2 separate regions of the Homo sapiens genome follow, and region 2 is linked to region 1. The links come from fine-mapping of genetic effects on gene expression. A gene starts in region 1. The other region holds a variant in brackets. All regions are shown on one strand. Distances are between the middles of the regions.

Region 1 (5,112 bases):
AACAGGAACTCCTCAACACCACCAGACACGGCAGAGGCATCGCCCTGTTACAGATGAAGATGATAAGGCCCAGAGGGCCCAAGGGACCTGCCCTGAAGTCACACAGGGAGCCGGGGAAAGCCAGGGTTGAGCCCCAGGTGTGGAGCGAGCATGGAGCAAGCACCCTGAGCCCTGTTCTTCCTCTCTGCTTGGGTCCCAAGCTCTCAGGTCTTCTTTGAGAAGGCCAGGCCGGCAGGGCTCTCAGAGCCTGCCCATGTGATAGCAAAGCGTTCTCACTGTGGGACCAAGCGGGACCAGGATGCAGATCTGAACAGCAGCAGCAGGGTGTGCTGATGACCCAGCCCTGGGCCAGAGAGCTGTGTGTCCAGGTGGAAAGAAACACAATTAAAATTGGTAGAAACATATCATCTGACCAAGACACAACTGTGTGCATGAAGACCTTAGTGACAGCATGGTTTGCAATAGCAAAAGTAAGGCAGGGAAGTACAAATTCAATAGCAAACAAATAGTGGTATGGCCATGTCACAATACCCTGCGGCCATTTCAAGTGATGTTTACAAAGTTTGTAGGCAGACAGTCACCTCGTATTTACAAAGCTCCGACTGTGCGGGGCGCTGGGTTGGGCACGGAGCAGATAGGGCCAGAAGGCCAGCCCAGCCCAGCCCTGCCCTCAGGCGGACATTGTTCTCTGACTCCGGCTTTGCTGGGCTTCAGCAGCCTCCGGAGGGAGGGCTGAGAAGGGCACCCAGGGCCTCCCCGAGGTGATTCTAATGTAACACATTAGCTGGACCCCCAGCTTTGCCATTGCTTCTCAAAGTGTGTTCCCAGGACACCTGTGCCTGCCCCTCCCCACACCCCAGTATCTTGGATCAAAGTCCTCATGGGTTCAATTCTCATACTTTGATCATTATCAGAACACCCCGAGCCCCAAGCCCAAGTTCCCAGGATGGGGCTGGGGTGTTTAATGAACATCAGAGTTTGAGAATTTATGTTGTAATGTTAAGCTCAAAAAGAAATTACATTGCATGTAAATCTCACTCACAGCAATGTTCATATGGGGAAAAGGCTGGAAGGGAGAGGAAGCGTCTGTATTCCAGGGGGGATTTCTTCCCTCCATATTTATCTATTTTTACATTTTCTACCAAAAACAGAACTTTATTTTTAAAAGATATCTTTACAGAATTCACATTTAGAAAATAGAACTAGGCCAGGTGTCGGGGCTCACGCCTGTAATCACAGCACTTTGAGATGTCGAGGCTGACGCATTGCCTGAGCACAGGAGTTTGAGACCAGCCTGGGCAACATGGTGAGACCTTGTCTCTAAAAAAAATACAAAAATTAACCGGGTATGGTGACATGCACCTGTAGTCCCAGCTACTCGGTAGGCTGAGGTGGGAGGATCACCTGAGCCCAGGGAGGTCGAGGCTGCAGTGAGCCGTGATCCTGCCACTGCACTCCAGCCTGGGTGACAGAGTGACATCTTGTCTCAAAAAAAAAAAAAAAGAAAAGAAAAGAAAATAGAAGCAATATTCTGAAGTGTTTCATGTCTTTGAAGTGATTCTAGGGCTGAAAATTTCAGGCTTTCATTTTTGATTATCAGCATCTATGTGGGTTAGCCCCTTAGCAGGTAGGCAGAGTCTGGTGGGGCCCGAAGGGGAGGGGAAGGAAGGAAGAAAGTGGGGGAGTGAGAAAGAAGGAGAGGACAGGGGTCAAAGGGAAGGGGAAATGGAGAGGGTACGGCTTCTGTTCAGCCCAGCCGGAGGCTGCCCCGGGCGGAAGGAAGCTGGTCCTGGCCGCCCTGAGGGGCCTTCTGTGAGGCTCAGGCCGGTGGCTCCTCCCTGGCAGGGAGCCCAAGGGAGGTCCACAGCTCTGCGCAGACAGGTGCCAGGATGGAGCCTCCTCCCGTCCTTCCTGCCAGACCCACTAATACCAGGCAACAAGGGGCCTGGGAATGGGAGCAGGGAAAGCGGGCAAGTGGGAGGCAGAGCTGGGGCGTTTATGGCCGGCAGCCTTGGAGGACAGCCCCGAGGGCTCAAGGGCTTGGCAAGCTTGGCAAACTTGCAAATGGCAGCCCTGGATTGCATTCCGCCCCTGCCCCCACTGCACAGGTTTGAGTCCCACTCTCCCACCAGGCCTGTCACAAATACACTGGGGTCAACCCCATGTTTCAAGGATCAAGCTGACCACACCCTCTCCCTGCTCAGATGCTCCCGCCTCCCCTGCCTTTATGCCAGGGTGGGTCCGTTCCTTGGCTGGGCTTCCAGGGCATTTCAGGATCTGTCCCTCTTGCCTCTGAGCCCCTTGACCGCCGACCCCACCGCAGCTCTCAGCCCTCTGCCTGCCACGCCTTCCCCTTCTTCCCCAGCCCCCGCTGAGTCCAGCACTGCCGGCCTGGCTCACCTGCAGGAAGCCTGGTAGCTCCTTCTCCATCAGCACCTTGAGCTCCCCCTTGGTCAGGGTCTGCGTGCTGCCCTCGCTGCCCGAATATCGGGAAAAGACGTCTATGATCATGCCCATGGCTGTCTCTAGTTCCGTCATGGTGCTAGATTCAGACCCACCTTCCTCCTGGGGGCTGGCAGGGCCGAGAAAATGTCCCACTGGCAGCCTCTTGGTGCTTTATAAGGCAGCCTCATATTGACACAGAGGGTGGGACAGTGGGGTTGGGACATTCAGGAAGTCCTGCCCCTCCCCATTCATGTGCTCAGTTCTGATGAAATGCATCGTTGTGATGACGTTTCTGGAACCTTTCCCCCAGCCAAGGCCCAGGGTGTGGGCTGCCTCCAGGCATCCACATTTTACAGTGTTCACCTGTGTCTCGGCGCCATCACTGAGCCACAGTGGCATCCTCATTCCTGGCCCTCCCTGGGTAAGTGGGCACGGGGTGAGTGTGTGTGGAGTGAGTGGTGACTCCGTGGCCCTTTGTGTCAATATCAGAGCGTGCTGGCACCCAGCGTGCTGACACGAGGAGACATCTGAGAGTGAATTCACATGGGCGTGTTTGTGAACATGGATCTGCCCCATCGTCCCTTTCTTAGAGCACTCTGTGTCCTTCAGAGGCCCAGCTTCCACGTCAATCTCGCTCGCTCCTCCCCTGTGGGGCCAAACAGAAAACTCCCCTTCATCCTCTGGGAGTTTGCTGAAAATCAACGGGCAGAAGGCAGATGAATAGGAGAAGAGCATAACAGATGTATTTGATCATAGCTTATGTGGCACGGCAGCCTTCAAGATGAAGATCCAAAGATCTGGTGGAAACTATCCATAAACACAGTTCAGCGAAGTATGGAAATATGATTGGATACAAAAGTAAGGCTGGATGCTCACAGACCAAGAGGAGAGCCTGGTAGGGCCTGTTGAGTCAGATTCCCTGGGGCCTCTCTGAGCAGCTCTCCTTCCTTCTAGGTGTGGGGCAGGACTCTTTCTGGAATGGAGCTCTTATGACCTACAGTCAAATAAAGCAGGCCAGAGGGTTTCTTTAGGCTGGTTTCTACACAGAAAGGGGAGGGAGTGGAGAACTGGAGTCATATTTCTGGGTTTTATGGCAGGGTTTGGGGAAGCCTCTCAGAGGAGGAGGAGCTGGAGACAGGAGGGTGGGAGCAGGACAGAGAAACTTTTGTTTCTGAGGCTTCCACGTTGGGGTGTTGTTTTTTGAGCCCCGGCACTTACCAAACCCAAATCACCCACAGGGCTTAGACGGCACAAAGGCTCCTGGGACTCTGGGCAGAGTCAGGGACAGTCACACCCCTCCCCGTCTCTATAGCGGAGGTACTCAGAGGGTCTGTGCTTGGGAGGCTGAGCGAGTCCTGGAGAGCATGGAGGTAGGGGCCTGTGTTCACATCCTGCCCCGGTCAAAGTAGGCCCACACTCAAAGGCCTCTCTCTCAGCAGAGATCTTCCAGAGTGTCAGCCTCCAGCAAGTTCCCTAACCTCTCCCAACACAGCCTCCACCAGCACATGGGCCGAGACTCTCCCCACGGGGCTGTGGCTCAACATAGAAAAACCTTGGTGCACGATGGCAGCAGCAGGTCTCACAAGAGCCGGCTTTCTCAGAACACACTGCCTCTGCCCAGGTGTCCTGCAGTGGAGGCTCAGACTGGCCCCACTGGTGACCCCTTGGGGAGCAGGGACAGGTCCATTCTGCTCACTCCTGAGCTGGGCAGTTCCCTCTTGGGATAAGGTCGCACAGCACAGGCCACCATCATACCACCCCAGCCAGAGAAGTGGGAGAGAGAAGGAGGCTCCCTACCCCAGAGGCAGTGCTCCTCAGGAAGGGCATTCACTGCGTTATATAGATATATATATACACACACACACACACACATATATATACACATATATACACATATATGTATACACACATATATACACACACACATATATACACACACACATATGTATATACACACACATATATATATAGATATACACACACATATATTTTTTGTTTGTTTGTTTGTTTGTTTGCGATGGAGTCTCACTCTGTTGCCCAGGCTGGAGTGCAGTGGTGTGATCTCGGCTCACTGCAACTTCCACTTCCCGGTTTCAAGTGATTCTCCAGCCTCAGCCTCCCGAGTAGCTGGGACTACAGGCATGTACCACCACACCAGGCTAATTTTTTGGGGGTTTCACCATGTTGGCCAGTCCGGTCATCACTTTGTTTTAAAATTTTTATTTATTTATTTATTTTTATTTATTTTTTGAGACGGAGTCTCGCTCTATCACCCAGGCTGGAGTGCAGTGGCACGATCTTGGCTCACTGCAACCCCTGCCTCCTGGTTCAAGTGATTCTCCTGCTTCAGCCTCCTGAGTAGCTGGGATTATAGGCATGCACCACCTTGTCTAGCTAATTTTTGTATTTTTAGTAAAGATGGGGTTTTACCATGTTGGCCAGGCTGGTCTTGAACTCCTAACCTCAAGTGATCTGCCCACCTCGGCCTCCCAAAGTGCTGGAATTACAGGCATGAGCCACCGTGCCTGGCCCCATTTATTTACTTTTAGAGACAGTGTCTTGCTTTCTCACCCAGGGTGGAGTGCAGTGGCTCAATCACAGCTCACTATAGCCTCCAACTCCTGGGCTTAAGTGATCCTCTCACCTCAGCCTCTCCAGTAGCTGGGA
Region 2 (5,000 bases), 27 kb after region 1:
GTCACGGAGATTTAGGGTGGCTCATGCAGCAAAAGCCAGTTGATGGCCGTAGGTGGGATTATAATCCCGGATACATTAAAATGCCAGTCTCTTCTTTTCCCCATGTCTTCATTTGCTCACTCTCAGGTGAAGGGATCTTGCTTGGAGGCCCAGACGTTCTGGATTTTCTCTTTAGAAACTGTGGCTTGAAGCATCCTCTTCAGGAAACAATATTTACTCCTTTTGTATCTCCAAAACCCCTCCTCACCCCTTTTGCAACCCAAACCCAAGTGTCTTCTGTGTCCTATTTTTCTTCTTTTGAGGCAGAGTCTTGCTCTGCTGCCCAGGCTGGAATGCAGTGGTGCGATCACGGCTCACTGCAGCCTCGACCTCCCTGGCCCAGGTGATCCTCGCAACTCAGCCTCCCGAGTAGCTGGGACTACAGGCACATACCACAATACCTGGCTAATTTTTTTGTATTTTTTTGTAGAGGTGTGGTTTCACTATGTTACCCAGGTTGGTCTTGAACTGAGCTCAAGCAATCTGCCTGCCTCGGCCTCCCAAAGTGCTGGGATTACAGGTGTGAGCCACTGCGCCTGGCCAGCTTGTACATTTTACAATCAAGATTACAAGACTACTGCCAGCTGTAGGCCACATCAGGCTCTGAGAAGAGGGGATGTGGACAGAGGTAACCAGGACAAAAGGAAAAAAAAGTCCTTAATTTCACCTTCTCTGATGCCATTTAGTTCATGCCGATCATCTGTAATTCACATCTGTGAACTTTCAGCCCGTTTGGGAGAAGCCTTCCCTCAAGTGCTTAATTATGGCACAGGATGGTCTCTTTTACACAAACGACTGTGCAAAGACATAGAAAGTGGAATTTATTTCTATCAGAATTAATTCAGAAAATCTGGGTAAGTTCCACACTCCATTTAACACTCATTACACATAATAACTGGTCAGACCACATTGTGTATGACTTAACCCACATTACATGAATAGTCTAGGAATAACAAAAGAATTTACTATTTATTTATCTGAAACAATGTTGATTCTGGGTTTGGTAAGATTCTGGGCTCGACACAATTCTGAGTCATGCTAAATTCTTCCACCAAAGGCAGCTGCCATAATGGAGTGTCTGGTACAGGAAGCGCGAGCCACTGGAGTGTGGGACGCATCACGGCCACAACAACAAAGCTGTCTCCACGTCCACTGCTAGCCGGGCGGGGCAGTAAAACGTGGTGTCTTGCACGTTGTATTTTCAAGAAACGGCCACAATGCAATTGCTAACAGTTGCACCTGCTCTTCCAGAACCTTGCCATGCCCATCAAGAGGTGGAGTCTGTGTCTCCTCCCTTTGACCCTGGCGGGACTTTGTGAAGGTGATATGGCAAAGAGATGCTATGGGACTTCCGATGCTTACTCTCCTGGGTTTTGTACATTTGGACGCCAAAGCCACCATATACGAAGTCTGGCTCCCCTGAAATTGCCATGCTGTGGAGACTATGTAAAAAGATCTCTGGTCGGGCGCCCCAGCACTTTGGGGGGCTGAGGCAGGTGGATCACTTGAGGTCAGGAGTTCAAGACCAGCCTGGCCAACGTGGAGAAACCCCGTCTCTACTAAAAATACAAAAATTAGCTGGGCGTGGTGTGGGGTGCCTGTAATCCCAGCTACTCGGGAGGCTGAGGCAGAAGAATCGCTTGAACCTGGGAGGCAGAGGTTGCAGTGAGCTGAGATCGTGCCATTGCACTCCAGCCTGGATAACAAGAGCCAAACTCCATCTCACAAAAAAAAAAAAAAAAAGATCACTGAAAGAGATATCCGTATCTGGAAATGGAGTGCTGCCGAAGGATGCTGAAGAGACAAAGGAAGCCTATTGGCTTTGAGAAGGCTCTCAGTGGAGACCTAAAGAAGAGTGAGGCATCTGGAGGTGCTGCAGCCCACCAGGCTGCT[G/C]TAACAGAATGTCATAGCCTGGGGGGCTTAGAAACAAAGGTTCCTCACAGCGCTGGAGGCTGAAAGTCCAAGATGAAGGCGCTGGCAGATTCAGTGTTTGGGGAGGGAGAGCCCTTTCTCTGTGTTTTCACATGGCAGGAGGGGCGAGGGAGCTCTCTGGGGTCCCTTTGATAAGGGTACTAATCCCATGCATGAGGGCTCCACCCTCATGACCTTGCCACCCCCAAAAGCTTCTTCCTAACCCCATCACATTGCGGGTAGGATTTCAACATGGATTTTGAGGGGACACAGTAACAGGAGGAAAGGGGTCCCTGTTACACAGAAGCAGAGTTTAGCAATACCTAAACTCTGCAGAAACGTGGAAGAGACAGCATGTACTTATGAAACGGATTCCAGGCACTGCTGAAGAGTTGCCTGACCTCTGGTTGCTTAGAGTAAAATGCAAGCGGAACTCTTAACTCTGAAGGATCTGGGGCTTGTGGGTTTGTAATCACCACTGTTTCTCCCTCCCAGCCTCTCAGGATGGCAAGGAATGCTAACGTTAAGAAATGGTTTCTGAGGCTGGGCGCGGTGGCTCACGCCTGTAATCCCAGCACTTTGGGAGGCCGAGGCAGTAGGATCACCTGAGGTCGGGAGTTCGAGACCAGCCTGATCAACATGGAGAAACCCCGTCTCTACTAAAAATACAAAATTAGCCGGGTGTGGTGGCACATGCCTGTAATCCCAGCTACTCGGGAGACTGAGGCAGGAGAATCGCTGGAAGCCGGGAGGCGGAGGTTGCGGTGAGCCGAGATGGCGCCATTGCATTCCAGCCTGGGCAACAAGAGCGAAACTCCGTCTCAAAAAAAAAAAAAAAAAAAGAAAAAGAAATGGTTTCTGGACAGAGGTAAGCCTAGGGTGGTGCTATCAGGAAAACGTGGCTCACGCCTGCAATCCCAGCACTTTGGGAGGCCGAGGCAGGCGGATCACGAGGTCAGGAGATCGAGACCATCCTGGCTAACACGGTGAAACCCCGTCTCTACTAAAAATACAAAAAATGAGCCGGGCGCGGTGGTGGGCGCTTATAGTCCCAGCTACTCGGGAGGCTGAGGCAGGAGAATGGCGTGAACCCGGGAGGCGGAGCTTGCAGTGAGCGGAGATAGCGCCACTGCACTCCGGCCTGGGCGAAAGAGCTAGACTCCGTCTTAAAAAAAAAAAAAAAAAAAATGAGACCAAAGGCATGACCACAAATCCCCTGTCTTCACCCAGGCTGGCTGCTTCCGCTTCACGTTCAGTATATTTAAAAGTTCTTGCCATGAGACAGGGTTTTCTTATCCCCTCATCCACCCCGTCTTCCCCTTTGGTGAAGGAGGGTGAGTTTGTTAAGACGTTGTGGAGGAACTAAGGCTTCCAAAGGTTTCGGGCCTGAGGTGACGAGAGGGGCCAGAACCTAAAGGAAGAGCCGAGGTGCAGGAGAGGCAAGGAGCCAACATGGCGACAAACTGGGGTGGGCAGCGGAGAGGGGGACTCAGAATGCCCTCTGGGGTGGACTCAGAAGACCAAATTTGCAGCATCCCTGGCCTGTGAAGGTCGCACAGAGTGAGGCTGCACTGTGGTAATGGGCTGCTCCTACCCACCCCCGGTGAACCCTCAGGGCACACCCTGGGGGTGGGCTGCACCTACCTACCCACGCTGAACCCTCAGGCGCGCCAGCAGCGGCTCCCGGCAAGGGGAACAGCCTGGGACTGTGGGGTTGAGCTGCAGTCAAGTGGCTGAGGCTTCTGAACTGTGATAAAAGCACCGCGGGCTCACGCCTGTAATCCCAGCACTTTGGGAGGCCGAGGCGGGTGGACCACGAGGTCAGGGGATCGAGACCATCCTGGCTAAGATGGTGAAACCCCGTCTCTACTAAAAAATACAAAAAATTAGCCGGGCGTGGTGGCGGGCGCCTGTAGTCCCAGCTACTTAGGAGGCTGAGGCAGGAGAATGGCGTGAACCCGGGAGGCGGAGCTTGCAGTGAGCCGAGATCGCGCCACTGCACTCCAGCCTGGGCAACAGAGCGAGACTCCGTCTCCAAAAAAAAAAAAAAAGCACCGCGGAGAGCGGGAAGGAGGCCTGGGAGGAGACTGCACTATCACCCAGTGAGTGTGAGTATGCGTGTGTGTGAGCATGAGTGGTGTGTGAGCGAGTGTGTGTATGCGAATGCATGTATGTGTATGAGTGAGCATGAGTGCACGTGTGAGTGTGAGCATGTGTGAGTGGTGTGAGCAGGTGTCTGAGAGCATGTGAATGCGCATGTGAGCATGTGAGCGAGTGTGAGCATATGTATGTGTGGGAGTGAGCATGAGTGTGAGCTTGTGTATTGTGAGCCTGTATGAATGTGAGCATGAGTGCACATGTGAGTGTATGGGTGTGAGCATAAATGTAAGTGGTGTGTGTGAGAACATGAGTAAGAACGGGTGTGAGCATGTATTGTGGGTGTGGATGAGTGTGAGTGTGCATGTGCATACATGTGGGTATAAGTGTGAGCGAGTGTAAATGTGTGTATGTGTGTGACATTGTGTGAGCATGTGTGTAAGCGTGTATGACTGAGCATGTGAGTGCACATGTGAGTGCATATGCATGTGAGCATGAGTGTCAGCGGGTGTATGTGTGAGCATGAGTGAGTGGGTGTGCGTATGTGTGAGTGTGACCATGACTATGTGAGCGTGTATGAGTGTGAGCGTGTGAGCGCATGAGTGTACATGTGAGCATGAATGTGAACGGATGTATGTGAGCATGTGTGAACCTGTGTATGTGTGTGAGCATGAGTGTGTAAATGTGTGCGTGCGAGCGTGAGTGTGAGCATGAGTGTGTGTGAGTGGGCATGATGAGTGTGCGTGTGAATGCTCGTGTGAGCGTGCGCGGCCGGGCCAGAGCCGCTGGGCGCAGGGAGCGGGAGGCCTGGGAGGAGCTGCAGGCCGAGGCTGAGCCACCTTCCTCAGGAGCTGTTCCCATCACCTCTAGGCGGCGCGGGAAGCGCTCGGTGTGCAGCGGTTCCTGAACCTGCATCACCCACAAAGAATTTTTTTTTTTTTTTTTTTGAGACG

The links. PIP is the estimated chance that this variant, and not a neighbour inherited with it, causes the effect.
Region 2: its variant is the best candidate, but not a certain one, in a credible set for the expression of S100P in whole blood (INTERVAL, PIP 0.66).

What each region holds. Positions count from the first base shown.
Region 1 is chr4:6,691,359-6,696,470 of GRCh38, reverse strand. It overlaps S100P (S100 calcium binding protein P), which reads right to left and starts at 2,593. Exons shown (of 2, transcript NM_005980.3): 1 at 2,401-2,593. The coding sequence starts at 2,538. RefSeq lists enhancers at 1-387, 1,590-2,325, 2,326-3,062, 3,372-3,909.
Region 2 is chr4:6,664,660-6,669,659 of GRCh38, reverse strand. No RefSeq gene overlaps it. Among named protein-coding and RNA genes, the nearest start is that of LINC02482, 6.7 kb to the left of the region's middle. The variant G/C (reference allele first, on the strand shown) is at 1,933.